Homo sapiens: one gene and its partners. The protein of the gene in region 1 purifies or fractionates together with the protein of each later gene. This does not show direct contact. Each region holds a gene or a part of one and is shown in the gene's direction. Other genes may lie near its edges.

Evidence for each region.
Region 2: the proteins of DCUN1D4 (region 1) and AFP purify together in Homo sapiens (affinity purification with mass spectrometry; one large-scale study listed by BioGRID and IntAct). This does not show direct contact.
Region 3: the proteins of DCUN1D4 (region 1) and PCK1 purify together in Homo sapiens (affinity purification with mass spectrometry; one large-scale study listed by BioGRID and IntAct). This does not show direct contact.
Region 4: the proteins of DCUN1D4 (region 1) and TOP3A fractionate together in Homo sapiens (co-fractionation; one large-scale study listed by BioGRID). This does not show direct contact.
Region 5: the proteins of DCUN1D4 (region 1) and ITIH2 purify together in Homo sapiens (affinity purification with mass spectrometry; one large-scale study listed by BioGRID and IntAct). This does not show direct contact.

Annotation. Positions count from the first base shown.
Region 1 is NC_000004.12:51,839,941-51,846,920, forward strand, and holds the start of DCUN1D4 (DCN1-like protein 4), read left to right. Parts: upstream 1-3,212; 5' UTR 3,213-3,302; coding exon 3,303-3,327; intron 3,328-3,631; exon of another isoform or gene 3,632-3,645; coding exon of another isoform or gene 3,646-3,802; intron 3,803-4,060; exon of another isoform or gene 4,061-4,132; intron 4,133-4,303; exon of another isoform or gene 4,304-4,403; intron 4,404-4,431; exon of another isoform or gene 4,432-4,459; intron 4,460-6,980. UniProt on the Homo sapiens protein: Contributes to the neddylation of all cullins by transferring NEDD8 from N-terminally acetylated NEDD8-conjugating E2s enzyme to different cullin C-terminal domain-RBX complexes which are necessary for the activation of cullin-RING E3 ubiquitin ligases (CRLs).
Region 2 is NC_000004.12:73,433,131-73,440,029, forward strand, and holds the start of AFP (alpha-fetoprotein isoform 1 precursor), read left to right. Parts: upstream 1-3,090; 5' UTR 3,091-3,132; coding exon 3,133-3,217; intron 3,218-4,029; coding exon 4,030-4,081; intron 4,082-5,043; coding exon 5,044-5,176; intron 5,177-6,899. UniProt on the Homo sapiens protein: Binds copper, nickel, and fatty acids as well as, and bilirubin less well than, serum albumin. Only a small percentage (less than 2%) of the human AFP shows estrogen-binding properties.
Region 3 is NC_000020.11:57,563,826-57,568,780, forward strand, and holds the end of PCK1 (phosphoenolpyruvate carboxykinase, cytosolic [GTP]), read left to right. Parts: intron 1-343; coding exon 344-568; intron 569-656; coding exon 657-788; intron 789-1,214; coding exon 1,215-1,310; intron 1,311-1,524; coding exon 1,525-1,979; 3' UTR 1,980-4,296; downstream 4,297-4,955. UniProt on the Homo sapiens protein: Cytosolic phosphoenolpyruvate carboxykinase that catalyzes the reversible decarboxylation and phosphorylation of oxaloacetate (OAA) and acts as the rate-limiting enzyme in gluconeogenesis.
Region 4 is NC_000017.11:18,285,876-18,290,994, reverse strand, and holds part of TOP3A (DNA topoisomerase 3-alpha), read left to right. Parts: coding exon 1-153; intron 154-308; coding exon 309-438; coding exon of another isoform or gene 439-473; exon of another isoform or gene 474-495; intron 496-5,119. UniProt on the Homo sapiens protein: Releases the supercoiling and torsional tension of DNA introduced during the DNA replication and transcription by transiently cleaving and rejoining one strand of the DNA duplex.
Region 5 is NC_000010.11:7,743,211-7,749,409, forward strand, and holds part of ITIH2 (inter-alpha-trypsin inhibitor heavy chain H2 precursor), read left to right. Parts: coding exon 1-49; intron 50-871; coding exon 872-1,070; intron 1,071-1,580; coding exon 1,581-1,753; intron 1,754-3,382; coding exon 3,383-3,494; intron 3,495-5,976; coding exon 5,977-6,124; 3' UTR 6,125-6,199. UniProt on the Homo sapiens protein: May act as a carrier of hyaluronan in serum or as a binding protein between hyaluronan and other matrix protein, including those on cell surfaces in tissues to regulate the localization, synthesis and degradation of hyaluronan which are essential to cells undergoing biological processes.

The DNA of each region.
Region 1 (6,980 bases):
TCTAATCTAGGCTTAGGGCATTTCAAAATATATCTGATTAAAATTAATATTGTATGACTAATAAAATAGAAAAATTCCAATTAAATTAGGTATCATTAACATGGAGTAACTTGCTTCAATATTACCTTAAAGCAGTAACTGGGTGAAATGAAATGGCATAAAGACTGCATCTCCAAATATCTCTACCCATCACAGTCCCAAGATATTCAATTATTAATTTTTTTCTCCAGGGATTCAAATATAAATGTACAGAAGTATAACATTATTATCTCAGTAAACCTCTCCATGGGGATCATGTTCTTTGGGAATACTACAAATGAGAAAAAAAAAAGTGAAGTATTGATTTACATATTGAAAAAAATCCTGAATGAAATACATAAAAAAGAAGGCAACATTTCAACCATGAAGCAGACTTGTATTAGATTGGCATAGTAACTTTCAGATGGGAAGGGAGAGTAGTTTACCTATCTTTGGAATTTGAAGCTTTGATATTAGACAGTGTGGTACAGGGGATAGAGTTGAGAAACCTGAATTTAAGCCCTGTTTTGTTATCAACTAGCCAAGTGACTCAGATTAAACATTTAACTCCTTTGGATGTCAAGTCTCTTATTTTTAAAATGAAGATGTTGGATTTGATAATCACCAAGGTTCCTATCCAGATCTAAAATTTCATGTACGGTAAACATTCATTTTAAGGGGTATGGTTAACCAGTGCCTACCACAATATTTGAAAGCATTGTACTAGGTGCTAGGCAAGTAAAAAGATAACTATAACAAGTTTCCTGATATCAGAGGTTTATATGGTGTGGATTATTTAAATGACCAGGTAATATTTGCAGAGCATTATGTAGTCATTTTATTATACTTTGTAAAACGTGGGGGCAGTGAGGGTCAGCCGACTAGGAATGAGCTTTGCCTCTCAATCCTTAGGCTATAGCTGACTCTTTATAAAGATCTGGGTAAATTACCTCTAAGTCTGTTTTCTACTTGAAAATAATCATACTGACTCAACTGAAAGCAATGTTGAGAAATAACAGAGGTTGTACATTCTATAAATTTTTATGGACACCATGCATATGCCAGGCCAGTGTTGGGAGCTGGGGCAAAGCAGCCGACCCATCCTTCATCTAGCTTAACTCTTATACACATTATTATAAAGTATGCTGCAAATAAATTAATAGAGCAAATGACTAGCTATAATTAATTGTGGGCTTATTGTAATTTAGAGGTGTCACGAAGGAAGCCCTTTTCTGTGCAAAATAACATGTGTCTCAGTCTTTGAAGTACCATGGTAAACGGTAAAAAAAAAAATCATAAATATTACACACACAAAAGATTTGAAACTTGTATTAAATGACATATAATTTATTATTTCCTAGATGTAGATTAAGCTGAAACATAAATAGAATAAAGAATGCAGGAGCAGCTTCCCTGCTCAGAGTAAGGGCGGATATTCTTACTGCTAGATCTGCCCAACAAGCAATCCCCTATCTCAGAGTCCAGAGGTACCTACCCATCACTGTGGGGCCCCGCTGAGGTACTGTCATGATAAAGGTGATCAATAAGGATGTTCTATGAGAGATTCTTGTCTTGCGAAAGAACCTGAAGCAAATAATAAATAACTTCAGGTACAGTTCTGAGATTCCATAAAGTGATTCATAAATGTTTGAATGATAAAAATATTATATAAATAGTATTATAAGGATGTAATTTATTAAAGAGAAATTAGCGATTAAGATGGAGGGAGCATTTTACCATGGGAGTGCTGTGGGACACAGAAACTGGTTTGTCTGAGCCCCTTCCAAATAGCATAACATTTGTGTCCTGATTTAAAATCTAAATTTCAGAGCCTGGAAACCCAAAAGCCTGGGCTGTAGAAATCTAAAACCAAAAAGACCGTGCGTTCTGTTACCTGTGATTTGTGGTGTCACCTACTCTTTGAGGCTCCCAGATGGCCCAGGGCCTTAGGATATGGGGATGCCTTGTAGGTGTGTTGTTGTTGGAGTTGGTGGCTGGGATGAGGGTGGAGGCAGGGTAGGGTGGGGGTGGGTTGGGGTGGGGGGAATCCTCCGTTAATATCTCGAAATATTGTTCTGTTACCATAATGCGGTGTGATAAGTTAGCTTCAAGTATTGAAAAATCAGGGCAGGACTCATGGAAATGGTGCGAATTCTTGACTTAGGGTCAGAAGAATTCACCAAAATTAACGTCTCCCTCTGCCAAATAACAGCCAGTTTCAATTTCTGGACGGCCTCTCCGCGGGAGTGACAGGTTTTCTTAGATGCCGCCGGGGGTCTTTCACGGGCTGGTGGTCTGCCCCCTGGACTCGTCCATGTGTTAGGCTCAGTCCGCAGCTCAGAGCGCGGCCCTGTATTTCTGTCTGATGTCTGGGGCATACAGATGTGTGTGACGGACAATGCTCGTGGCATTCGAAGCCTCTTTAACAGACATTAGTGACTAGAGGAAAGAAGTGTGCGAACTCTGCGAAACAAGTATGCGGACTCTGGAAAAGAAGTACATTTCGAAAGTGGGGAGAGGATGGATCTTCGTAGGAGAAATGGAAATTTGCTCCCCACCAGAAGGTTTGCTGGAAATTAAGACGCGGCAATTCTTAATCCAGTTTCCTGCGGTAGGAAGCAGCTGACAAGAGAAGTCCCAGTCCGAGTTCGGCGCGAACTGGACAAGTGTCGTGGGACAAGTGGCGGGAGACCCGGCCGCGTCGCGCCGGGCGCTAGGGACGGACGCATTTCCCTACTTCCAGCAGCTGGTACGAGCCGCCCCCAACTGCGCTGCGCTGCTCTATTCTTTGGGAAACACTTCGCGTGCTTTGTTTCAGACGCCGACCCATCTTTCTTGGTGGGTCTCCAGCTCCACCAATCCCGCCCGCCACTGGGCGGGGTTTCAGGGTCAAGGTGGACCAATTTCCCAGCTTCGCCCCTACACGCGCTCTCGGACCCCTGGGGGTGACTGACAGCAGCCGGGCCCAACCCGCTGCTCCGGAGCATGGCCTCCGCCAGGGGCGTTACGGAGACAAGGCCCCAGGACCAATCGTATTGGCCAGTGGGGGGCGGGGCCTCGTTGCCAGCTCCAGACCGGCGCTATGGGCACTCCTTTTGTCAAATGAGAGACGCAGCAGGGCGGCCCCTGAGCCGCGGTTTAGCCAATGGAGAAGGCGAGATGGGCGGGCTGGGAGTGCCCGGCGGCGGGTCCTCAGCTTCGAGCCGAGGTGCAGTGAGCTGGTGGGGGGACCGCGAGGCGAGCGCGGGAGCCTGGGCGGCGAGCCGGGTGTGAGCTGCCTGAAAATGCACTCGGATGCCGCCGCTGTCAGTGAGTAGCAGAGAGCCAGCCAGCGGGCCGGGGCCGGGCGGCTGCCAAACTCGCCACTCGGCTCCCGCAGTCCCCGCCCCACGCCTCGGGTCCCGAAACGCGCCGGGAGCCCCTGCCTGGGAACCACCCCTTCCCCTCCCGGGGCCGGGGCGGGCGGTGACGCTGCGGGCGGCGTGGGGCGGGGGCGGGCGTGGGGGGAAGGGACCGGCCTGCGGGGAGGGCGGAGGTGAGGGGGGTGGGGACTGGCTCTCTTTCAGTGTTGGGGGAAGGGAGGGCTGGACGTGCGATGAAGGGCCGAGATCGGAGTGTCCGGGGTGCATGGAGGTGGAGGCAGCGTTGGGCTGTAGCGGGCAGGGCCGGGGATGTGGGGGGGTGGCACCGGCGGGGAGAGGGAGGGAGCGAGCGAGCGAGCGGGGCACAAGGGTGAGGATTTCCAAAGGGCTGAGTGGTGCGGGCGGCTCCGTGAGAAAGGCGGGTGAGTGCGAGGGGGGCGCGGGGGCGGGGACAATGGGAAGAAGGGCTGGTTGGCGGGGGGGTGGGGGGGGGGCGGCGAACAATGGGGTGGGGGAATGGGGGCAGCGGCCGAGCGGGGCAGGAGGGCGGGCGACTGGACGAGGGCTGATGTAACGGGAAAGCGAGGTGGTGGGAGGGACTGGGGTGTAATGGTAGTTGGGGAGTCCTGCGGGGCGGGAGGGGCGTTGGAAGGGCGGTGGGTAACGGAGAGTGGTGGGAGTGGAAGATGTTGGGGTAAAGAGATGGGGCAGGTGTGGAAGGGTAGGGCGATTGGGAGGAAGAGGAGAAAAAGGTGGGTAGGATTTGGGGTGGCAGAGTGGGGGCAGGGGTGGAGAATATGAAATGGGGGTGAGGAGCTAGTCGGGGAGGAAGGGGAGGTGGGGCGGAGTTGGGCAGGAGGACTGTCACGTCCAGATTCGGTCCGGAGCCGGGCTAAGGGGGTGTCAGACTGTGCTTAGGGGAGGTACTTCCTCTCCCTGTCGAGGCAGGGTCCCTTGAAGGGGGGAGTCCAAGCTTCGGGGTGCGGAGAGAGGAGGGGGCGGGGCTGAGGTGGAGGAGACGGGGTAAGTGCCCTAAGGTTGGAACTGGCCGTGGTTCCCCCCGGACGGCGGGAAGCGAGGTCAGCGCTGGCGCGGGCTCCGGCAGCGGGACTAGGAGGCGGGGCAGGGGTGCGGGCTGCGGGGTTTCAGCAGCGGGAGCCGGAGGGGTCGGGCCCTGATGGCCGGGTCGGGGGCTTGGCGCCGGGGAGGTGTCGGGGTCCCTGGCAGTCCGTGGGTTTGATAGTCTGTGACGCAGTTGTCTAATTTCTGGCTATCAGGTGTGGGGGTTGGTGCCATGGAACCCGCTTCCTTAGAGGGATGGCCGGGCCCTAGGCCGCGCCCCACGCCCGGGGGGCGCGACTTCTCCCAGGCGTGCTGGGAGGGCGCTTGAGGGGTTTCCTTTAGGGTTTGTCTCCAGTCAACGGGTATGAAGGGGAAAGGCGGTCCCGCCGAATTCTGGGACTTGTAGTCGCGGCCGCGCCCGGCCGCGGTTGGGTTGGGTGCACGTGGGTAACTGTGGAAACGGGTCCCGGCATGCAGCGCGCCCTTGGAGCCTTCCTGCTCGGCCAACTCGTGCTTTATTCCCCGGCCAGCTCCTGCGCGCTCTCGGGAGGCGGTTGAGTTCCCAGGGACGGAGCGACTCCCCAGCCCTTCTCCCTTGGGAGAGGGAGAGCCCACGCCAGGCGCAGCCCTCTTCACGCTTAGGTTCTTGGTCCCCAAGTGAATTTCCCCCTGCATTTTGTGGCCTTACTTGTGGAATAAATGCTTGGTCTTGTACCATCATGCGCACGGGTTGTGGGAAAACATTTAAGAAGCAACACAATGTAAAGCAGCCTTTAGAATGGTGTATTTAATTTTGGCATCCAGTGTGTGTAAGCACTGGGTTCCAGCATTCCCTTGCATAAATATGAGAACACAGTGGAGGTACACGTAACCCTTGTAACGATAATATAAACTATGTGTTGGTATTTCTTGGGGTGTTTGAAAAAATAACTGTCTTGAAATGAGTGATGGAGGTGGGTTAGTGGAATTTAGGGTGGAAATGTGAAGGTGAGCAAAGGTAATATGTGACGTCTTCAATTTTCGAAGAAGCTTGGAAAGCAAATGAGAATAGAAGAAAACTGTAAAAAGTGGAGAACCATAAGACTTTTTTTGTTTGCTTGTTTTATTATTAGCTGCAGGCTGCAATTCCTTCTCTCCTTAATACTAGAAACCTTCCTCTCCATAAGTAGACTCCCTAAACGTCACATCCTTCACCAGTTCCCTTTACTGTTTACAGGGAAGGGACTCCAGAATCTGTAATGTAGAAGGCTAAGATTAATGCAGAGATGATAGATTTTTGTATGTAATATATAAGGTATTATGAAACTACTTGCAACATAGTCATTAGAAGAATATTGTAATTTTTCTGATGATAAAAATATTACCAAGAAGTCCTAAGATTTGTAAACCTTTTGGTGTGGTTACAAACATACTGAACTTGGATACTTGATTGTTTGATGGTTCTTTTCATGATGAGTGAAAAATTGGGCAATGTGTGTGGTGTTCTTGTGGAGATCATTTATATCTATCTGTCATATTTTACTTAATCGTGTGGTGAAATATCCAGGAAACTCTTGGTAATATAAAAATATGTACAAAAATGTGCACTTAACTCTGGAATTTTTTCTTGCAGAGGGTAAAGTGATGAGGTTGAAAAACATGCAAGAGCTATAATTGTCTTCAAAATGGTGTTTTTAAAGAAAATATGAAGCTAGTCATAGCTTTCTCTTTTTCTTTTGTTCTATTATATCCCAAAGGGCAGGTGCTTTTTATACACATATAGCCCACCTCCCTCCATTCCCCAAAGCCCTAGGCTCCTACACACTTTCTGCTCTGGTTTTTAGGTTCCTTTTTGATTTTTGGCGCTTGGGGAGGTCCTTTATTTTCTTGTGAACGTAGCTGTGCATTTAAACAGATGTTTCTTACACGTTATCCAGAATTTTTGACTGTTTTATATTAAGAAGGATTTTTAGGTAATCTTGTCTGTAACATTGCCAGAAAAGAAGGCCTGCCTCATTTTCTCTTAGTGGACTTCACTCTCTTCTTCCTCTGTTGTTAACTCTGTGTACCCCTACTGGCACTTAATCATGTTTTTTCAAACTTTATCATTGTCTCCTTTTCTGTTTTTATGTTAAGTTGCTCCCAGCAGCTCTTCTTGGCTTATTACCTTCTTCCTGGCTACGTTTACATTATTATCTCAATCATCATCTGCTAATTATAACTAATAATTAATAGCTAATAATCCTGCTAACTTAGCAGTATAAAAATCAACCTGTGAGAAACTGACCTCATGATGATCTCTTGTATCAGTTAGGATGCCTTTGCCAATACAATGCTCAAATTAATGGCTTAAATAATAGGGCTTATTATTGTTCGGTAGCAAGAAACCTAGAAGTAGTTGGTTCTAAAGCTGGTGCAGTGGCTTAATGATGTCATTAAGGATCTAGGTTCTGCATCTTTTTCTTCTTCTATTAGTGTTTTAGCTTTTATTCCTCAGGCTCATTTGCCTCATGTTTGCAGTATGGTTGCCGTAGCACCAGACATCATGCCTGGATTGGA
Region 2 (6,899 bases), about 22 Mb from region 1:
GCCTCTTCAAAACTGCATTTTCTCTCATTCCCTAAGTGTGCATTGTTTTCCCTTACCGGTTGGTTTTTCCACCACCTTTTACATTTTCCTGGAACACTATACCCTCCCTCTTCATTTGGCCCACCTCTAATTTTCTTTCAGATCTCCATGAAGATGTTACTTCCTCCAGGAAGCCTTATCTGACCCCTCCAAAGATGTCATGAGTTCCTCTTTTCATTCTACTAATCACAGCATCCATCACACCATGTTGTGATTACTGATACTATTGTCTGTTTCTCTGATTAGGCAGTAAGCTCAACAAGAGCTACATGGTGCCTGTCTCTTGTTGCTGATTATTCCCATCCAAAAACAGTGCCTGGAATGCAGACTTAACATTTTATTGAATGAATAAATAAAACCCCATCTATCGAGTGCTACTTTGTGCAAGACCCGGTTCTGAGGCATTTATATTTATTGATTTATTTAATTCTCATTTAACCATGAAGGAGGTACTATCACTATCCTTATTTTATAGTTGATAAAGATAAAGCCCAGAGAAATGAATTAACTCACCCAAAGTCATGTAGCTAAGTGACAGGGCAAAAATTCAAACCAGTTCCCCAACTTTACGTGATTAATACTGTGCTATACTGCCTCTCTGATCATATGGCATGGAATGCAGACATCTGCTCCGTAAGGCAGAATATGGAAGGAGATTGGAGGATGACACAAAACCAGCATAATATCAGAGGAAAAGTCCAAACAGGACCTGAACTGATAGAAAAGTTGTTACTCCTGGTGTAGTCGCATCGACATCTTGATGAACTGGTGGCTGACACAACATACATTGGCTTGATGTGTACATATTATTTGTAGTTGTGTGTGTATTTTTATATATATATTTGTAATATTGAAATAGTCATAATTTACTAAAGGCCTACCATTTGCCAGGCATTTTTACATTTGTCCCCTCTAATCTTTTGATGAGATGATCAGATTGGATTACTTGGCCTTGAAGATGATATATCTATATCTACATCTATATCTATATCTATATCTATATCTATATCTATATATGTATATCAGAAAAGCTGAAATATGTTTTGTAAAGTTATAAAGATTTCAGACTTTATAGAATCTGGGATTTGCCAAATGTAACCCCTTTCTCTACATTAAACCCATGTTGGAACAAATACATTTATTATTCATTCATCAAATGTTGCTGAGTCCTGGCTATGAACCAGACACTGTGAAAGCCTTTGGGATATTTTGCCCATGCTTGGGCAAGCTTATATAGTTTGCTTCATAAAACTCTATTTCAGTTCTTCATAACTAATACTTCATGACTATTGCTTTTCAGGTATTCCTTCATAACAAATACTTTGGCTTTCATATATTTGAGTAAAGTCCCCCTTGAGGAAGAGTAGAAGAACTGCACTTTGTAAATACTATCCTGGAATCCAAACGGATAGACAAGGATGGTGCTACCTCTTTCTGGAGAGTACGTGAGCAAGGCCTGTTTTGTTAACATGTTCCTTAGGAGACAAAACTTAGGAGAGACACGCATAGCAGAAAATGGACAAAAACTAACAAATGAATGGGAATTGTACTTGATTAGCATTGAAGACCTTGTTTATACTATGATAAATGTTTGTATTTGCTGGAAGTGCTACTGACGGTAAACCCTTTTTGTTTAAATGTGTGCCCTAGTAGCTTGCAGTATGATCTATTTTTTAAGTACTGTACTTAGCTTATTTAAAAATTTTATGTTTAAAATTGCATACTGCTCTTTCATTGAAGAAGTTTTGAGAGAGAGATAGAATTAAATTCACTTATCTTACCATCTAGAGAAACCCAATGTTAAAACTTTGTTGTCCATTATTTCTGTCTTTTATTCAACATTTTTTTTAGAGGGTGGGAGGAATACAGAGGAGGTACAATGATACACAAATGAGAGCACTCTCCATGTATTGTTTTGTCCTGTTTTTCAGTTAACAATATATTATGAGCATATTTCCATTTCATTAAATATTCTTCCACAAAGTTATTTTGATGGCTGTATATCACCCTACTTTATGAATGTACCATATTAATTTATTTCCTGGTGTGGGTTATTTGATTTTATAATCTTACCTTTAGAATAATGAAACACCTGTGAAGCTTTAGAAAATACTGGTGCCTGGGTCTCAACTCCACAGATTCTGATTTAACTGGTCTGGGTTACAGACTAGGCATTGGGAATTCAAAAAGTTCCCCCAGTGATTCTAATGTGTAGCCAAGATCGGGAACCCTTGTAGACAGGGATGATAGGAGGTGAGCCACTCTTAGCATCCATCATTTAGTATTAACATCATCATCTTGAGTTGCTAAGTGAATGATGCACCTGACCCACTTTATAAAGACACATGTGCAAATAAAATTATTATAGGACTTGGTTTATTAGGGCTTGTGCTCTAAGTTTTCTATGTTAAGCCATACATCGCATACTAAATACTTTAAAATGTACCTTATTGACATACATATTAAGTGAAAAGTGTTTCTGAGCTAAACAATGACAGCATAATTATCAAGCAATGATAATTTGAAATGAATTTATTATTCTGCAACTTAGGGACAAGTCATCTCTCTGAATTTTTTGTACTTTGAGAGTATTTGTTATATTTGCAAGATGAAGAGTCTGAATTGGTCAGACAATGTCTTGTGTGCCTGGCATATGATAGGCATTTAATAGTTTTAAAGAATTAATGTATTTAGATGAATTGCATACCAAATCTGCTGTCTTTTCTTTATGGCTTCATTAACTTAATTTGAGAGAAATTAATTATTCTGCAACTTAGGGACAAGTCATCTCTTTGAATATTCTGTAGTTTGAGGAGAATATTTGTTATATTTGCAAAATAAAATAAGTTTGCAAGTTTTTTTTTTCTGCCCCAAAGAGCTCTGTGTCCTTGAACATAAAATACAAATAACCGCTATGCTGTTAATTATTGGCAAATGTCCCATTTTCAACCTAAGGAAATACCATAAAGTAACAGATATACCAACAAAAGGTTACTAGTTAACAGGCATTGCCTGAAAAGAGTATAAAAGAATTTCAGCATGATTTTCCATATTGTGCTTCCACCACTGCCAATAACAAAATAACTAGCAACCATGAAGTGGGTGGAATCAATTTTTTTAATTTTCCTACTAAATTTTACTGAATCCAGAACACTGCATAGAAATGAATATGGAATAGGTGAGATATTTTGTGTTTTTCTTGTCTTTTCTCTATATCAAAATTTTTTAAATTATAAAATTTGCATTAATTTGTCTTGATTTATTATTCATATTTATTATTCCACATGGAGAAAAAATATTTAACTGATGGATATATTTAAATGAAAGATAAACTTGTAACTTTACAAGAGGTTTACAAAGTTATAGCAGTGTTTAATGGATGAATGGTTTGTATGTTTCATGTTGAATTAATTTTTACACTTCAATGGTATGCATATTAACTTTGAAAAATTATATATATACACATATATGTACATATATATGAATATAAATAAAATTTTATATGTGAAGAAGCCAGAATTATGCTCCTTCACATAACTCCCTCAGACTAGTAAAATAGATAAAATCTTTGTTTTTAATACAGAAAAATGGGTCATTATTTGATGGTCTGAAGAAGAAATATTGTGACTGGGATATGAATGGCAAACCGTAGTATAACTATGTTCAAAAGAATGCCTGAAATATATTTTTAACCATTTGACTTTCAGGACAGTTACAGCACTACAGTACAGGGAAAAACCAAACAACTGGAAGACAAAATCTGGATTTTAGTGATAGGTCTACTATAAATTATGCTTGTTAACTTCATTCCTTAGTTTCCTAGTTTTCTTTTCCTCAAGTATAAAATTAAGATGCTTAGGTTATCCCTAATGTTCTTTTAATTCTGAAACTGTACAGTTCTAACTGAAACACAAACATTCATATGTAACAATGATTACTTTCTTGGTTGCAGTTGAAAACACGTTTCATGAAGTTTATTTTGCTTTCCAGCTTCCATATTGGATTCTTACCAATGTACTGCAGAGATAAGTTTAGCTGACCTGTAAGTTTTGCTTATATAAATGTACTTTAAATGTGTAAAGCAAGGATAAGTAAATACTTAAATAAAATTGGGTACCCCTGTGAGCTCTTAAAAGCACAAAAGCAATTTGGACAATTTCAAGAAAAGTTACTCATACTGAATATCAACTTGATGTTGAAGAGGTTAAACTGTTGACTAATGTCTTCGACATTGACCTTTTGATTCCTTGAAATCTCATGAGTCAAACCAAATCAGATTTTAGAAACTGAAGATTAGTGTCTGATCAGTGACAGCCATATACTAATTCAGGAATTTTTCTCATCAGTACCAACAGGGTGATATTATAATGTTTTCTTTTCTGTATACTATTTAAATCTTAGCAGCAAACCATAGGTGATAAAATATTCTATTTGCTGTTATTTGTGGAGAGTATGTTAGTCTCTTGGATGTCTTTCCATTCCACATTTTAAAAATTTCTAACAAAGAATTTAAAGTAGTGTGTTGCTGTTACTCCTTGCACATCCAAACCTGCATAAGGATTGCTTTGAGTCAATCCATGAGCACTGTAGTCTTGGGTTTTAGACCTTGATCATACTGGGAATAGACACTGTTAGAGGTCTGTCTAATTACCAATTTTTTTTTGCTTAAATTTAAAAGTAACCATAAAGAATATAGATACCCTCAATTATGGGTACATTACAGTAGATGGATGGTCACAGAAGGAGAAACCACTCTTATGGGAAATCCACTTATTTTAGCCTTTAACATCTATATGTATATTTATGGCAAAAGAAAACAAGAAAAAGACTAAAGTTTCTTCTCAGATGACCTGGAAGCTAATTTTACATAATTTTACAAATCAAATGTCTAAACAGATTACAACATAAATAGAAAACAAAACAAACAAATGAAAAACTATACTTGAGAAAAATAAGCTTGCTGCAGGTCTGTTCCTTAAGGATTCACACGTATTTTTGTTTCAGGGCTACCATATTTTTTGCCCAGTTTGTTCAAGAAGCCACTTACAAGGAAGTAAGCAAAATGGTGAAAGATGCATTGACTGCAATTGAGAAACCCACTGGAGATGAACAGTCTTCAGGGTGTTTAGAAAACCAGGTGAGTGAATAATTTTAAAAAAGCATTGTGATATTTGACAAAAATTTAGCATGCTGAAGAGAAGATACAAAAATAGCAGTGAAAAATGCATTTATATATTTGAAGAGCTATTGTATGAAAGAGGGATTAGATTCATTCTGAATTGCTAAAGAGGGCAGAAGAGAACAATAGGTAGTTATTATAAAGAGACCATATAAATATGATGACTGAGAGCTAAGGTTCTGAAATAAGATTATCTTGATGACTATGGGCATATTAACTTTTTTGAGCTTCAGTTTTCTTATCTGTAAAATAAGGGATGATAATAGCTCCCATTTCATAGTTAGCATGGAAATTGATATAACAGCAATAGTAGCTAACTTTTATTATACACACAATGTGACTGGCATTATTCTAGGGAGCATAATGTGTATATTGATAATAAAAATATTTTATGACATAGGGGATAGATAGCACTGATGAATCAGAATGGTTGTCCAGTGAGTCAAGAGATGCTGGCTCGGGCTTCTGGGCAGGATATCAGCTTTGCTTACCTATATTTATTTATTAAACATTTAAAATAATCCTTGAAGATAGATGCTAATCTTCCAACTGAGGAAGCTGAGGCTCAGAGAATTTAAGTAACTTTCTTATGGGAACCACCAAATGGCAGAGCCAGGATTTGAACTAGACCATCTGGCTTAAAATTGACAGTCTTAGTAGCTTCATTACACTATAACTATAGTGAATGTAAGATGCATAGCACATCGTTAGGGTTGCCAGGTTTAGCAAACAACAACAAAACATAATACCCAGTTCAATCTGAATTTTAGATAAACACTAAATACTTTTCTTAGTATAAGGATATTTCATTGTAGAAGCTCAACAAATAATATTTATTATTTATTTTATCTCAACATAGAAACAAACTTGATAATGATTAGAACTCTCCAATTATAAAACAACATGCCCAGAGAATACTCTGTTATGGTGGGGTTAATTAGGTGGCTGAAAGACAATGTACCTGGAATATCATAGAAGAGATGCTCCTTTAAGGATATAGTTTAAGTTCTTTCCAACTTTGAAATTTATGAATTGACAAAAATTTCTGTTTTGCATCTCTATTTTTGTCTTGTTCTGATAATCTTTTCAAAATGTGTATAAAAAAACAAGAATACATTATCTATTGCAACTTTACAACCAATTAGAGGTTCAAGGTAATGTTACAGATCGCTGATTTATTCTTGTAAATTCAAAGGTATGTCTTTTAAATGAGGATTGGGAATTAGAAATCTTACGTAAGCCTTCCAGGATTCTCTAAATATTACTGTAGCAGCTATAAAAGCTACATAAAAGTTCCCTCAGATACATGAAACACATGTATTCCTCAGATGCTTTCTGTGGAATATTGATGCTGTCATCTGAGTTTGGTAAGGGTAAGTCACAGAGGAGGAAACACATACATTTTAAAACATTTTAGCTAAATATGTAATTGTGGCCAAGAAAAGTGTTTTTTTAAAAAATAATTATTTCATTTCAAAATCATTTTTATTTATAATTGAAAATAATATGCAGTTTTTTATTGTCTTGTAAGGATGGCATGTAAAATGAGCATTTATGTCTGAAATGTGGTATGTCTGTGTGTGTGTGTGTATATGTATATATATGTATGTATATACCATAATATATACATATGTATTTGCAATTCCAAAAGTTACATCTTTAATGAGAATCATGAAAATAT
Region 3 (4,955 bases), on another chromosome or scaffold:
TTAAACTCTGTTAGTCCAGAGTTGGCCAAGCCTTAGAAATATGGATCCTGTAAGAATTCTTCAACTTAATATTCAATCTGGATTGAAACTGGGCCATATGTTGCTGTTTGTTTACATACATACATTTGTTTAAATGGTATTGGTGGAAAATTGTGGAGGAAGCAAGAGTCGTAAACGTATCAAAGTTGCATATGATGCTTGGATGAAAAGAGATAAATGCATATTCTAGGGAGGGAAAAAAGATTTGAGAAGTTGGCATAGAAATTAGTCCGGCAATATATAAGAGTATATGTTCTGCTTTGCCTGGCACTCACTACTGCTTCTCTGGTTTAAAACTCTCCAGGTCATTTAAGGGCCATCAACCCAGAAAATGGCTTTTTCGGTGTCGCTCCTGGGACTTCAGTGAAGACCAACCCCAATGCCATCAAGACCATCCAGAAGAACACAATCTTTACCAATGTGGCCGAGACCAGCGACGGGGGCGTTTACTGGGAAGGCATTGATGAGCCGCTAGCTTCAGGTGTCACCATCACGTCCTGGAAGAATAAGGAGTGGAGCTCAGAGGATGGTGTGTCCCTGCCAGAGGCCTTGGTGTGCCGGGCTGCAGGGACTGCCTGTTTGAGCCAGGCACTCACGAGCCTTTCTCTGTCTTATAGGGGAACCTTGTGCCCACCCCAACTCGAGGTTCTGCACCCCTGCCAGCCAGTGCCCCATCATTGATGCTGCCTGGGAGTCTCCGGAAGGTGTTCCCATTGAAGGCATTATCTTTGGAGGCCGTAGACCTGCTGGTGAGGCTCTCCTTCATTTAGGCTGGGAACATGGGTGTGCTGGGTACCGAAGGGCATCTGTGAAATCTCTCCTTTTCCATGACCTTGTCAGAGGGTGCCCAGGGGCTTCCTTTCTTGAGCTTCCTTCCCAAAGATCCAGAATAATTGGCAAGTTCAAATGTAGAACCAACCCTTCTGGTCACCTGGAACCTTTCTGAATCCCTGATCTATTGTAGCTTGATCAAATTTTACTTTTTACTTTGTGGCCTCAGTCATGTAACTTTGAGTTAGCAGTTTTCTGCAATTTAGCTTGGTGAACGCAAAACTAGCTCGATTACAAAGTTATTGTCTTGCCGTGTCTTTCCGTGTTGTGAATAACACCACTGGTTGTGGAGTCTGAATTTCAAAGCCTCTGATGAACATTTCTCTTTTTTTTTCCTGCTAAAGGTGTCCCTCTAGTCTATGAAGCTCTCAGCTGGCAACATGGAGTCTTTGTGGGGGCGGCCATGAGATCAGAGGCCACAGCGGCTGCAGAACATAAAGGTAAATCAAAGTCCTGATCTGAAACCACAGAGAAGTGGGATTAGAGCACTCTTCGTCACTCTTATGTCTCTCTCCTTTTCTGTGTCTGTGTGTGGGGAGAGAGAGAGAGAGAAAGAGAGAGAGGAGAACAAAGCATGCTAATGTCAACAATCAATGGCGTCAGTCTTGCCTAGGAGAGCCTCATTTACTAATGAACTCCCTCTCTGTTTAACAGGCAAAATCATCATGCATGACCCCTTTGCCATGCGGCCCTTCTTTGGCTACAACTTCGGCAAATACCTGGCCCACTGGCTTAGCATGGCCCAGCACCCAGCAGCCAAACTGCCCAAGATCTTCCATGTCAACTGGTTCCGGAAGGACAAGGAAGGCAAATTCCTCTGGCCAGGCTTTGGAGAGAACTCCAGGGTGCTGGAGTGGATGTTCAACCGGATCGATGGAAAAGCCAGCACCAAGCTCACGCCCATAGGCTACATCCCCAAGGAGGATGCCCTGAACCTGAAAGGCCTGGGGCACATCAACATGATGGAGCTTTTCAGCATCTCCAAGGAATTCTGGGAGAAGGAGGTGGAAGACATCGAGAAGTATCTGGAGGATCAAGTCAATGCCGACCTCCCCTGTGAAATCGAGAGAGAGATCCTTGCCTTGAAGCAAAGAATAAGCCAGATGTAATCAGGGCCTGAGTGCTTTACCTTTAAAATCATTCCCTTTCCCATCCATAAGGTGCAGTAGGAGCAAGAGAGGGCAAGTGTTCCCAAATTGACGCCACCATAATAATCATCACCACACCGTGAGCAGATCTGAAAGGCACACTTTGATTTTTTTAAGGATAAGAACCACAGAACACTGGGTAGTAGCTAATGAAATTGAGAAGGGAAATCTTAGCATGCCTCCAAAAATTCACATCCAATGCATAGTTTGTTCAAATTTAAGGTTACTCAGGCATTGATCTTTTCAGTGTTTTTTCACTTTAGCTATGTGGATTAGCTAGAATGCACACCAAAAAAATACTTGAGCTGTATATATATATGTGTGTGTGTGTGTGTGTGTGTGTGTGTGTGTGTGCATGTATGTGCACATGTGTCTGTGTGGTATATTTGTGTATGTGTATTTGTATGTACTGTTATTGAAAATATATTTAATACCTTTGGAAAAATCTTGGGCAAGATGACCTACTAGTTTTCCTTGAAAAAAAGTTGCTTTGTTATTAATATTGTGCTTAAATTATTTTTATACACCATTGTTCCTTACCTTTACATAATTGCAATATTTCCCCCTTACTACTTCTTGGAAAAAAATTACAAAATGAAGTTTTATAGAAAAGATGGATTTGCTTTGCTTGGTTTTTCTTATTTGAGCTACCAAGAGGAGAGAACTCTGATTAAATATCTTGTGATTTAAATCCTGCCCCCTCCCCAAGAAGGTGGGGACGTTCAGAATCACACTTGAAGAGGGGGTGCATTGCCTGGTCCCAGGGAGAAGGAGGGAGCAGATGGGGAGGAATGAGGCAGGGAACCATGGTTGGGGTTTTCTGAATTTGCTGAAGCCACTAGTTGGCATCCTTTAACAATTCTACAAACCTTTAGATGGTGAGGCTTATGTGGCAGGACTGGGAGGGTTTAATGCATGCTTTTTGACAGTTTGGATCTGGAGGGGTCTCAGGCTTCCACAAAAATTACATTGTGGACAGTTTCATAGGATTTTGCCTTTTAACTCTTCAAAGCAACAGTTTTCTCAACTGTCATCCCCGCGGGGGAGCAGAGGAAGACAAGTGAGAAGGAAAAGGGGACAGGATCTGGGTTGAGCAAGCATTAATTGAGCGCCTTCTGTATCCCGGACATCATGCCAACACCATGGGCTGCCCGAGAAGAGAGGTGGGTGGTTTGGTCCCCAGCTCTGCCTTGAACCCTCACCTGCTCTCCTCTACTCCCAGTGTTTATTGGATATTCCAGAACAGTCCAAACGAACCATAAACTTTATATCACAGATTCAATCTGTGTAAATACTATTATCTTCAAGTTGTAGTTTCTTTCTTGGGCCCAGGCTGTGAAATTGGCTTCACCCCTACCACACCCCAGCGGGCAGGCTTGTTCTTATGTCACACTCCACCCCTCCAGTCTCCTCAACTGGAAAACTTGCCTCTTTTCCTCACTTCCTCTGCTCCTTACAATGGCTTCATATGGAAGGTGAAGCTGAGATCACCCCAATTTTACAGGTGAGGAAACTGAGGTCAAGCTAGGAGCGTCCAGCGGGGCTGAGAAATTGCCAGGATTTCCTTCCCCATTAAGGAGCTGAGAGTCTTAGCTCCAGACACGTTGGCTTGTTAGAATATCAAAACCACCGAAGGGGAAAAACCACTTACTGGAATTAAATGCTATCTGCTGTATTAGTTTAAATCAGTGGCGTTCAAACTTGTTTCTCCTTTTCACTGCGGAACACGTTCTTGACATGTACTTGACTCAGAGTCCCATGTCTAAAGGAGACAGAGCCCAAGGCAGCCCACCTGAAGCTGGGGAGGGAGTCCAAAGTGCAAGCCACCTGGTCTCCATTTCCCCGCCCCTTGGGGGCCTTTGGGCAGCTCCTTGGACCCCTGAAAGAGGCCACCAGGATAAACTTTGTTAAAATGCATGCCTTGTGCCCCACTGTCCTATTACGGGCTTTCAGTAGTCTCCACTCCCTCGGCAGGCAAAGACACTGGCCATCTCCAAATTCCCTCCCCTCCTGCACAGCATCAGCCACCTGGCAAGCAGTCTCACATAGGACCATTTGCCAGCAGGCCCTGCAAGCCTGGGGGACAGCCTAGAGGAGGTGACTTACATACACAGCATAAGAGTTTTCAGGAGACCAAAAAGATTCAATATATGTCATTAACTCCTGACTCAGTTTCCCCAAACCATGCCTCCTGAGTGCTCCCTCTGTCTCCAAATCCTGATTTTTGTGCGCGGACCCCTGTCTACAATAAACAGGATCCTATGACTTCTTTCTTCAATGTTCTCTTGTCGTGCCTTCAGATGATGCAAAGTATGTAAGCTAAGCCCACTTGCAGGAAGCTCACAGAAGGCAAGAGGCTCATCACTTGAAAATACGGTTGGAGTGAGATGGAAAGCCCAGAGTCTCCTGATTCCTGGTCTACCACTGGACCACATGACTCCAAAACCAACACTGTGACTGACGTCCTCTACTGGAGTCCAGTGTAAGAGCTGTCCCCTGACCTCCAGGAAGCTGTGTTGCAGTCTGGGTTAAAGACCAGAAAACAATAGTTACACAGCAAATGTTGAACCAGGACAACAAACCTGCCCTTATTCCCAGTCGAGTCACTTAGGGGGCACTGACAGGTAGGCAGGCGGGGTGGCTAGGTGGGGCCGGGGCACACTTGGGAGTCAGGAGTTACAGGGCTCTTTCTCTTCTCTCCCTCTCCCTGGGGACCCACCCTAACCTGGACACCCCCGGGCTGCTCACTCGGCCCTCTGGATGCCAACAGCATGCACCTTCCAGAGTGCACGGTTTTGGCTGTAAGACCGCAGGTCATGGGCCCTGTTGAGCTCCCTTGACCTGCAGCCCTGCCAGAGGGCACCGAGCCAGGGGAGCAGCTTTTGCTTTGTCCTCACCTTTAGCAATTGCAGCGATGAATTCATCTATGGGAAAGAG
Region 4 (5,119 bases), on another chromosome or scaffold:
CGCCATTTCCTGGCTTGCTGCTCCCAGGATGCTCAGGGGCAGGAGACCACAGTGGAGATCGACATCGCTCAGGAACGCTTTGTGGCCCATGGCCTCATGATTCTGGCCCGAAACTATCTGGATGTGTATCCATATGATCACTGGAGTGACAAGGTAATAAAGAGTGGTCCCCAGTGAGAGGGAGGACAGTTGTGTTGTGAGCCCTGAGTTCTCTAGTGGAGCAGGATCATGTTCCTTGAAATGAGGTTATTTTTTGCCTGAGTGTGCTGATGGAATCATCTGACTGTTGCACCTGCCGCTCCCTGTAGATCCTCCCTGTCTATGAGCAAGGATCCCACTTTCAGCCCAGCACCGTGGAGATGGTGGACGGGGAGACCAGCCCACCCAAGCTGCTCACCGAGGCCGACCTCATTGCCCTCATGGAGAAGCATGGCATTGGTCAGTGGCTCCTCTGGGTAACTCGCATCTCTTGAGCTAAGGCTTACAGTGTACCAGGTACAGGTTTCCTCTAGTCTTCAAACCATTCTCTAATGCAGCTGCTATATCTTTATCCCATTTTATAGTTGAAATAAGGCTCAGAGAGGTTAAGAACTTACCTAAGTTCACAAAGTGTGTATTATTAAAACCTGGTCTGAATAACTCCACAGTCAGTGCTCTTAAACCATGCACTGTGCTGTCCACATAGTAACAGAGACTTTTCCCATGGCTTTGAGGGCCCAACTGGGAGCACCCATTGGCCACATGAGGATTTGTTGTTCTTTCGAATAAGAACAGCATGTAAGGAACCAACAATTAAAACTTGGGACAGTTATCATAAAATCTATCTTCATTTTGAAGTGTCAGATAGAGCCCTGAGCCTCCTTCCCATGTGGAGCATTGGGTGAGGGTGGCAGCTGTCTCTGCAGGTCTGAACCCACACTGCTCACTCAGGCTGCTCACGCTGGCCTCATGTATGTGCCAGGACCCTGCTGATAAGTCCCATGGCTCAAGCTTTGCAGGTAGGGCCTTGTAACTAATCTGCTGTCCCCTCCATTCGTTTTTGTCAAGGCTCTCAAGGGCTTTCTCTGGCAAACCTAGTCCAGGAATACCTGCAGCACAGTGGAGGGGAAGCAGAGCTCCCTGGGCATGTGTTACATAAGCAGCTGCGTCATCCACAAAGGGAGTTTCTTAGGCCTATGACTTGGGAAGCAGTGCTTCAACGTGAAGTCCTTGACCATCACTAGGACATCCAGAAACCCTGCAGGTTTAGGTAAAATTAGTAGAGGTTCACCCGTCATGATTTATTTGATAAAAATGTATGAAGGCTGGGTGTGGTGGCTCACACCTGTAATCCCAGCATTTTGGGAGGCCAAGATGGGTGAATCACTTGAGCCCAGGAATTCAAGACCAGCTTGGGCAACACGGTAAAACCCCATCTTGCTGGGCGCAGTGGCTCACGCCTGTAATCCCAACACTTCAGGAGGCTGAGCTGGGTGGATCACCTGAGGTAGGGAGTTTAAGACCACCAACCTGACCAACATGGTGAAACTCTGTCTCTACTAAAAATACAAAAATTAGCCAGGCATGGCGGTGGGCACCTGTAGCTGAGATTGTGCCATTGTACTCCAGCCTGGGCAACAACAGCAAAACTCTGTCTTAAAACAAACAAACAAACAACAACAACAACAACAAAACAGATCTGGCTGGGCACGGTGACTCATGCCTGTAATCTTAGTACTTTGGGAGGCCAAGGCGGGTGGATCACCTAAGGTCAGGAGTTCGAGACCAGCCTGGCCAACATGGCAAAACCCCATCACTACTAAAAAAATACAAAAATTAGCTAGGCGTGGTGGCACATGCCTGTAATCCCAGCTACTTGGGAGGCTGAGGCAGGAGAATTGCATGAACCCGGGAGGTGGAGGATGCAGTGAGCCAGGATCGCAGCACTGCACTCCAGCCTGGGTGACAGAGTGAGACTCCATCTCAAAAAAAACATTTCTACAAAAAATTAGGTGCATGCCTATAGGTAGGGAGGCTGAGGTGGGAGGATCACTTGAGCCCGGAAGGCAGAGACTGAGGTACAAAGTGTGAGGCCCACAAGAGTGAGAGCTTGGACTAAGCACCAGGGACACAAGGAGGAATAAGACCTCATTTTTTAAGTTCTCAATCTAACAGAAGAACCAAACCAACACATTGAATACAATGTAATAGTTCTGCAGGGAGTAGGCAGGGAAGAAAATGTGATGGGTGGACTGGCATTTGAGCTGGACCAAAACCTCATAGTAAGACTTCTGGATCAGCGAAGGGCAGCCCAGTGCAGGGTAGGCCTGAGGAAGGGCACAGGAGCAGGAAAGCAGAAGCCTGCTGTAGCTGGATTGGAGGGGGGTGGCCATAGAAGGTGAGCCTGGAAAGATGATCCAAGCCTGACTTTGCAGGGCCTTGGCTTGCCCAGTTGAAGGGCTTAGATGGTGGTACATGGTCAGCAGGGAGTCTTCCAGGATTTCTAAGTAAAGGAACCACATAGAGGTACACTTACAAAAAAATAATAATAATATTTTTAAAAGATTATTAACAGGCTGGGCATTGTGTCTCACACCTATAATCCCAGCACTTTGGGAGACCAAGGTAGGGGGTCAGGAGTTCAAGACCAGCCTGGACAACATGGTGAAACTCCATCTCTACTAAAAATACAAAAAATTGCTAGGTGTTATGGCTGACGCCTGTAATCCCAGCTACTTAGGAGGCTGAGGCAGGAGAATTGCTTGAACCCGGGAGGTGGAGGTTGCAGTGAGCCAAGATTGTGCCACTGCACTTCAGCCTTGGTGACAGAGAGAGACTCCATCTAAAAAAAAAAAAAAAAAAAATTTATATATATATATATATAATTATTAACAGCTTTATTTATATACCATACAGTTTATCTCCTTCAAATGTATAATGTACATTTTTTAGCATATTCACAAAGTTGTGCAGCTATCACCACAGTCAGTTTTTTTGTTTTTTTTGTTGTTTGTTTGAGATGGAGTTTTGCTCTTGTTGCTGCAGGCTGGAGTGGAGTGGCACAATCTCTGCTCACTGCAACTTCCGCCACCCAGGTTCAAGCGATTCTCCTGTCTCAGCCTCCCGAGTAGCTAGGCTTACAGGCACGCACCACCACACCCAGCTAATTTTTGTTATTTTTAGTAGAGACAGGGTTTCACCATGTTGGCCAGGTTGGCTGGTCTCAAACTCCTGACCTCATGATCCGCCCACCTAGGCCTCCCAAAGTGTTAGGATTACAGGTGTTAGCCACCATGCCCGGCCCCTAAAAAAATTTGTTTTGGAGAGATAGCATCTTACTCTGTCACCCAGGCTAGGTCACAGCCATGAACCCTGGGTTTCAAGGGATCCTTCCACCTCAGCTTCCCAAGTAGCTGGGACTACAGGCATGTGTTGCCATACCCAGCTAATTTTTTTGTTGGGTTTTTTGTTTGTTTGTTTTGTTTTGTTTGAGACAGAGTCTTACTCTGTCACCCAGGCTGGAGTGTAGTGGCACGATTTCAGCTCACTGCAACCTCCGCCTCCCAGGTTCAAGAGATTCTCCTGCCTCAGCCTCCTGAGTAGCTGGGACTACAGGTGCGCATCACTGGCTAATTTTTGTATTTTTAGTAGAGATGGGGTTTCACTGTTAGCTAAGCTGGTCTCGAATTCCTGACCTCAAATGATCCACCCGCCTCGGTCTCCCAAAGTGCTGGGATTATAGGCCTGAGCCACCATGCCCAGCCAGACTTTTTTGTTTTATGTAGGGACAGGGTCTTGCTATGTTGCCTAGTCTGGTCTTGAACTTGCACCCTCAAACTGTCCTCCTACCTCAACCTCCCAAAGTGTTGGGATTACAGGAGTGAGCCACTGCACCTGGCCAGATTTGCCTACTTTAGTTATTTCCTATAAAGAGCCAGGCACAGTGGCTCACACCTGTAATCCCAGCACTTTGGGAGGCCAAGGTGGGCCAATCACTTGAGGTCAGGAGTTCGAGACCAGCTTCACCAACATGGTGAAACACTTTCTCTACTAAAAATGAAAAAATTAGCTGGGCTTGGTGGCAGGCGCCTGTAATCCCAGCTACTCGGGAGGCTGAGGCAAGAGAATCACTTGAACCCGGAAGGCAGAGGTTGCAGTTGATGGACACTTGAGTTGTTTCTACTCTTTGGCTATTATAAATAATCCTGCTGTGAACAGTTTTGTACAAGGTTTTGTGTGGATATGTGTTTTCATTTCTCTTGGGTAGACTTAGGAGTGGGATTGCTGGTTTACTTGGTAACTCTACATTTAACATTTTTAGGAACCACCAAACTTTTCTGAAGTGGCTGTACCGTTTTTCATTTCCACCAGCAAGGCACTAGGATTCCAGTTTATCCACATCCTTACTAACACTTAGTATTATCTCTCTTTTTGATTTTGCCAGTAGGTCTGAACTGCTATTTCACTGGTTTTTTTGGTTGTTTTTTTGTTGTTATTGTTGAGGTGGAGTCTCGCTCTGTTGCCCAGGCTGGAATGCAGTGGCTCGATCTCCGCTCACTGCAGGCTCCGCCTCCCAGGTTCATGCCATTCTTCTGTGTCAGCCTCCTGAGTAGCTGGGACTACAGGTGCCCGCCACCACACCCGGCTAATTTTTTTTTTTTTTTTTTTGTATTTTTAGTAGAGACGGGGTTTCACCGTGTTAGCCAGGATGGTCTTGATCTCCTGACCTCGTGATCTGCCCGCTTCGGCTTCCCAAATTGCTGGGATTACAGGCGTGAGCCACCACGCCCAGCCCTTTTTTTTTTCTTTTTTTTTTTAAAGAGAGTCTCACTCCATCACCCAGGCTGGAGTGCAACGGTGCCATCTCAGCTCGTTGCAGCCTCTGTCTCCTGGGTTCAAGTGATTCTCCTGCCTCAGCCTCCTGAGCAGCTGGGACTACAGGTGCGTGCCGCCACACCCTGCTAATTTTTGTATTTTTGATAGAGACAGGGTTTCAGCATGTTGGCCAGGCTGGTCTCGAACTCCTGACCTCAGATGATCTGCCCACCTTGGCCTCCCAAAATGCTGGGATTACAGGCATAAGCCACTGCTCCCAGCCTTCACTGCAGTTTTAATTTGCATTTCCTTCATGGCAGAGCTA
Region 5 (6,199 bases), on another chromosome or scaffold:
GACTCAGAACCTGGAAAAATCCTCAACCTGGTTTCTGACCCAGAATCAGGTAAAATAAAAATAAATTATATTTGCACCAATTAGGTCATTGTCATGCTTTCCTGTCACTGCCTGGGATTTCTTTCTTTCTCAGCTTAATAGAAGTTCTATATATTTCAGTGATATTAGTGAGAAATTAAATTATAAATATATTCTTAACTATTTTGAACCATTATAGTTCAAAATATATACTCTGAGTATGAACTTGCAGATCTTGTTGTGATATAATTAATTTAAATATGAGCCAGGAACGGTGGCTTACACATGCAATCCCAGCACTTTGGGAGGCCGAGGTGGGCGGATCATCTGAGGTCAAGAGTTCGAGACCAGCCTGGTCAAAATGATGAAACCCCACCCCCCACTACTAAAAATACAAAAACAATTACCCAGGCGTGGTGGTACACACCTGTAATCCCAGCTACTCAGGAGGCTGAGGCAGGAGAATTGCTTGAACCCGGGAGGTGGAGGTTGCAGTGAGCCAAGATCACACCATTGCGCTCCAGCCTGAGTGACAGAGTAAGACTCCGTCTCAAAAACAACAACAAAAAATTTAAATACTATATGATAGTCAATTATTTAAATTTTATAAACTGACAATTAAATTTTATAACTGATATAAAATTATTAAATTAAATTTTATTAAAATTTATAAATGTTATATTAACATGTTATAAAATGAGAATCACAAAGAAGAAAATGTTAATGTAAATCTTGAAGCAAAATTATAATAATTTTCCAATATTGCCAAGTTTTTATAAATTTGAATTATAGTACCCACACATGCAAAATAAATGGCACAGAAGAGAAAACATCATTTTTTTCTTTCCTGTAGGAATTGTAGTCAACGGTCAGCTTGTTGGTGCCAAGAAGCCCAACAATGGAAAACTAAGCACCTATTTTGGAAAACTGGGATTTTATTTCCAAAGTGAAGACATAAAAATAGAAATCAGCACTGAGACCATCACCCTGAGCCATGGTTCTAGCACATTCTCCTTGTCCTGGTCCGACACGGCTCAAGTCACGAATCAGAGGCAAGTATGATTCCATCTGAACTTGGGCCTGTCCGTGACACACGACTGCATAAATAAATCCAGGCATCAGTGACATCAACATTGAAAAAAAATCATCATTTTAAATATAAGGAAGTTGAGGTTCAGAAAAATTGTTCTCACTCCCTACTCTGTTCCTGGCAGTGGGCACTGTGTGTTTTTGGTCACCGTTGGGTCCCAGGACCTAGTCCAGTGCCTGGCATCAGTAAACACTCACTGTGTATGTGCTAATCAGTGAACAAATCCACCAGCTGAAATCCATACTGACTCTATCGCAGAGTGAGCTCCAAACGCCATGATTGTGTCCTCTGCGTAGAAGCTTCCCAATGAGTTTCTGTTAATCCATCATTTATCTATAAACTGTTGCAAGCGCTTAGATAACTAGCGGAATTGTCTGGGAGGAGTGAAGAGTTCATATTAGGGGTGAGAAGAATGACTTTCTCAAAAGGTCTGTTCTGGAATGGTTTAATTCCTCTTGGACTTTCACACCAGGGTGCAGATCTCAGTGAAGAAAGAAAAAGTGGTAACTATCACCCTGGATAAAGAGATGTCCTTTTCTGTTTTACTTCATCGTGTTTGGAAGAAGCATCCCGTCAATGTTGACTTTCTGGGAATCTACATACCCCCTACAAACAAGTTCTCACCTAAAGCCCACGGACTAATAGGTAAAGTGTCTATTGACCATCTGACAAGGGTGGGGCCGCTCTAATTCTTTAGCAGCTTTGGTTGACAGTGGTTACAAGTTGAGGACATGGCAGGTGTGGACTCATGAGCACAGAGGACTAACATAGCAGTGTGGGGTCGCTCGGGAATGTGACAGCCAGGACCTTTTGCCATTCCAGACAAGGTTGTCCAGGGCCAGGATTTCAGCATCACAAACTGGGCAAGTTAAGAGAAGGGACAGATACATTTTAAGTTTTATGTTAAAGATTTTTTTCTAACTGAAGCAAGATGAACCCATTTAGGAGGTCTGTGATAACAAGCAGAACACTCTGGACAAATGTCCCTAGTATTTTAAGAAGGGCTCAAATATAAAGCCTGTGACATCACAAACAAAACTTTTTCCTGTGATCTGAGCTATACTCTCAGGTGCTCACCTCATTCTCCTGCCATCAGGGTGCTCGATTTACTTACAATCCACTAGACCAACCTCATGTATAAAATGACCATGAGCTCCAGGCATGGTGGCTCGTGCCTGTAATCCCAGCACTTTAGGAGGCCTGGGCAGGTGGATTTGCTTGTGGAGTTCAAGGGCAGCCTGGGCACCCCATCTCTACCAAAAAATTAGAAAATAAAAATAATTAGCAGGGTATGGTGGAGCCTGCCTGGAGTCCCAGCTACTCAGGAAGCTGAGGTGGGATCTCTTGAGCCCCGGAATTGGAGGCTGCAGTGAGCTATGACTGTGCCACTGTGCTCCAGCCTGGGTGACAGAGGGAGACTCCATCTCTTAAATTAATTAATTCATTAATTTATGAGATGGAGTTTCTCTCTTGTTGCCCAGGCTGGAGCGCAGTGGCGCAATCTCGGCTCACCGCAACCGCTGCCTCCCCGGTTCATGCGATTCTCTTCCCTCAGCCTCCCGAGTAGCTGGGATTACAGGCATGCACCACCACGCCCAGCTAATTTTGTATTTTTAGTAGAGATGGGGTTTCTCCATGTTGGTCAGGCTGGTCTCAAACTCCCAACCTCAGGTGATCTGCCCACCTCGGCCTCCCAAAGTGCTGGGATTACAGGTGTGAGCCACCACACCCGGCCCCAAATCTTAAATTTAAAAAAAAAAAAAAAAAAAAAAAAAAAAAAAAGGCTGTGAGTAGTGGCTCACACCTGTAATCCCAGCACTTTGGGAGGCTGAGGTGGGTGGATCGCTTGAGTCCAGGAGTTCAAGATCAACCTGTGCAACACGGTGAAACCCTGTCTCTACAAAAAATTAGCCAGGCGTAGTGGCTCACGCCTGTGGTCCCAGCTACTTGGGAGGCTGAGGTGGGAAGAACACTTGAGCCCAGGAGGTGGAGGTTGCAGTGAGCCGAGATAGCACCACTGCACTCCAGCCTGGGCAACAGAGGGAGATCCTGCCTCAAATTAAAAAAATAAAAATAAAAAAAAGATGGTGAGCAGCACAAATGTGCTCCCAGGAAGGACCCTCCCTCCCATCACCACTCCTTTTTCCTCTCAGCTTGTCTTTCCACCCTAGAAATCCTGGAGGGAGGACCGAAAGGTAGCATGGAGTCAATAATGAGCCTCTTTTTATTTAACTATGATTACATGTCAATCAATGTCTGATTCTGTTTTGCTAGGCCAGTTCATGCAGGAACCAAAGATACACATCTTCAATGAGAGACCAGGAAAGGACCCTGAGAAGCCAGAGGCCAGCATGGAAGTGAAGGGGCAGAAGCTGATCATCACCAGGTAGGCCTCGGGCGTAAGGACAGTGACGAAAAGGCCTTGTGTTAGAATTAGACCCACACAGCAAAATAGAGGAGCAAAGAAGAAGTGTCGTAGGCACTACCTACATCACACTAAGCAGTTCATTAGGAATAGACGCACACAGCATTCGCATAAGGACACTTCTGATATCCCACGTTAAATGCAAATAATGACTGGGTATCTAGGGTCATGCAATGCCAAGATTAACTAACCTGTTGTTCTCATCTTCATACTTTAGAAGCCCTCACAAGAGCTTCACAAGTTGGATAACCAGACACGTTGATCAAAGGAGAGAATCATAAAACACCTATTACCATAGTGCTGCAGAATGAATGTAGATTTTTACATCAGGCTAGAGTTTTCCTTTTGCACAGGGATCTCTGACTGCTTTTTTTGTAGCTTTTCTTACACAAACCACCCCCATATGCTTCATCTGAAGTGAGAACTTAGACGCTCATAACGCATTCTGAGTGTAAAAGTCTTACAAATCTTGATATTTTTTCCCAGTCCTTTACAGTTGTCTCACCCATGCCAAATTTGATACCGTTTTAAAGCAGCTTACCCCTTTTTAGAGTTTTTACAAAGCAGCCAACTTTGCTTTATTAGAAAGGATTCTTCACGCCCACAAATGTCATTGGCTTTGACATACTTAATTAAACCATAACATTGTAACATAAAATTGTAGTCGGAAGTATTGCCACGAAAGTAGATTTGTGAACTGAAACAATGGATTCTTAGTGAATATGCCATTCAATTAGTATCAGTTTATGGGAGGAATGAGGTACCGACGGGAATCAGTGAGCATGTGTCACAGAAGCAATGGTGAGCACAAATTATTAATGTTAATAGTAAGTTATCTGAAGTTGGTAGAAGGGCATTTACTGCCAGGCATGGTGGCTCATGCCTGTAATCCCAATGCTTTGAGAGGCCAATGTGGGAGGATCACCTGAGACCAGGAGTTCAAGACCAGCCTGGGCAACATAGTAAGACTCCATCTCTACAAAAATAAAAATAAATATAAAAATAATTATCCAGGTGTAGTAGATTCTGCCTATAGCCCCAGCTACTCAGGAGGCTGAGGTGGGAGGATCCGTTGAACCCAGGAGTTCGAGGATGAAGTGACTTATGATTGTGCCTCTGCACTCCAGCTTGGGTAACAGAGAGAGACCTGTCTCATAAATAAATACATAATATATAAATAGGCCAGGCGCAGTGGCTCACGCCTGTAATCCCAGCACTTTGCAAGGCCTGGGTGGGTGGATAACCTGAGGTCAGGAGTTCAAGACCAACTTGCCAACATGTTGAAACCCCCCCCATCTCTACTAAAAATACAAAAATTAGCCGGGTGTGGTGGCGGGCGCCTGTATTCCCAGCTACTCGGGAGGCTGAGGTAGGATAATCACTTGAACCCGGAAGGCAGAGGTTGCAGTGAGCAGAGATAGCACCACTGCACTCCAGCCTGACTCCATCTCATAAAATATGTATATATATTTATATATACATATATAAATAAATATATGTATACATATATATATATATTTACTATAATGACAAAAAGTAAATGCTGGGCCTCGATTTGGTCCACTGCAAGCACCTCATGGTTCATAACTGAAACTGAGCTGTCCCGTGGGCTGGGCACAGTGATACTTTTAAGTCTCGTTCACGCAGTGTGAACGAGATCCTTAACAAATTGTTGGCTACTTTGCCCTTCAAGTGGAGGACATGAATCTGCTCAGAAACAGCAGGTATCACTCTTAAACACAGAGAAAGTGCAGTTAAGAGGTGCCGCCAATGCATTCTTTTTTTTTTTTTTTTTTTTTTTTTTTTTTTTTTTTTAGTGACAGAGTCTTGCTCTGTCGCCCAGGCTGGAGTGCAGTGACGTATCTTGGGCTCACTGCAACCTCCACCTCCTGGGTTCAAGCAATTCTCTTGCCTCAGCCTCCCAAGTAGCTGGGACTACAGGCGTACACCACCATGCCCAGGTAATTTTTCTTTTAATTTTTAGTAGAGACAGGGTTTCACCATGTTGGCCAGGCTGGTCTTGAACTCCTGGCCTCAAGTGGTCCGCCCACCTCAGCCTCCCAAAGCGCTGAGATTACAGGCGTGAGCCACCATGCCTGGCTGCTGACTCATTCTTTAAGTGACCTGTGAGGTCAGCCTCAACACTGTGGAGTCTTGTTCCTGCCTTCTTTCCATTGGCTACTGTTTCCCTCGCTGGAAAAGCCCATATAGGTCAACTCTAAGGGTTCTTTGAGTTCTCCAAGGACGCTTCGCTGATTCTCTGTGCTTCCAACACCAAGCCCCAGACTTGGTGTTTCTTTTTCACATGACTTGGGGAGCAGCGATAGGTGGGGGGCGGCAGATGTGGTGACAGAAGGAACACGAAGAACAGCAAGGAAAAGAGGGAGTCTTGTGTCTAGAGGTGCTCAGTCTCCCCCTAACCACATGCCTTGCTTCCTTGCAGGGGCTTACAGAAAGACTACAGAACGGATCTAGTGTTTGGAACGGACGTTACCTGCTGGTTTGTGCACAACAGTGGAAAAGGATTCATTGACGGGCATTACAAGGATTACTTCGTGCCTCAGCTCTACAGCTTTCTCAAACGGCCTTAAAGGTTTATAGTTTGGGAAATTATATATATTAATATACATCTTTCCCCTGTCACTTTTGCAGATATTCTTCGGTTT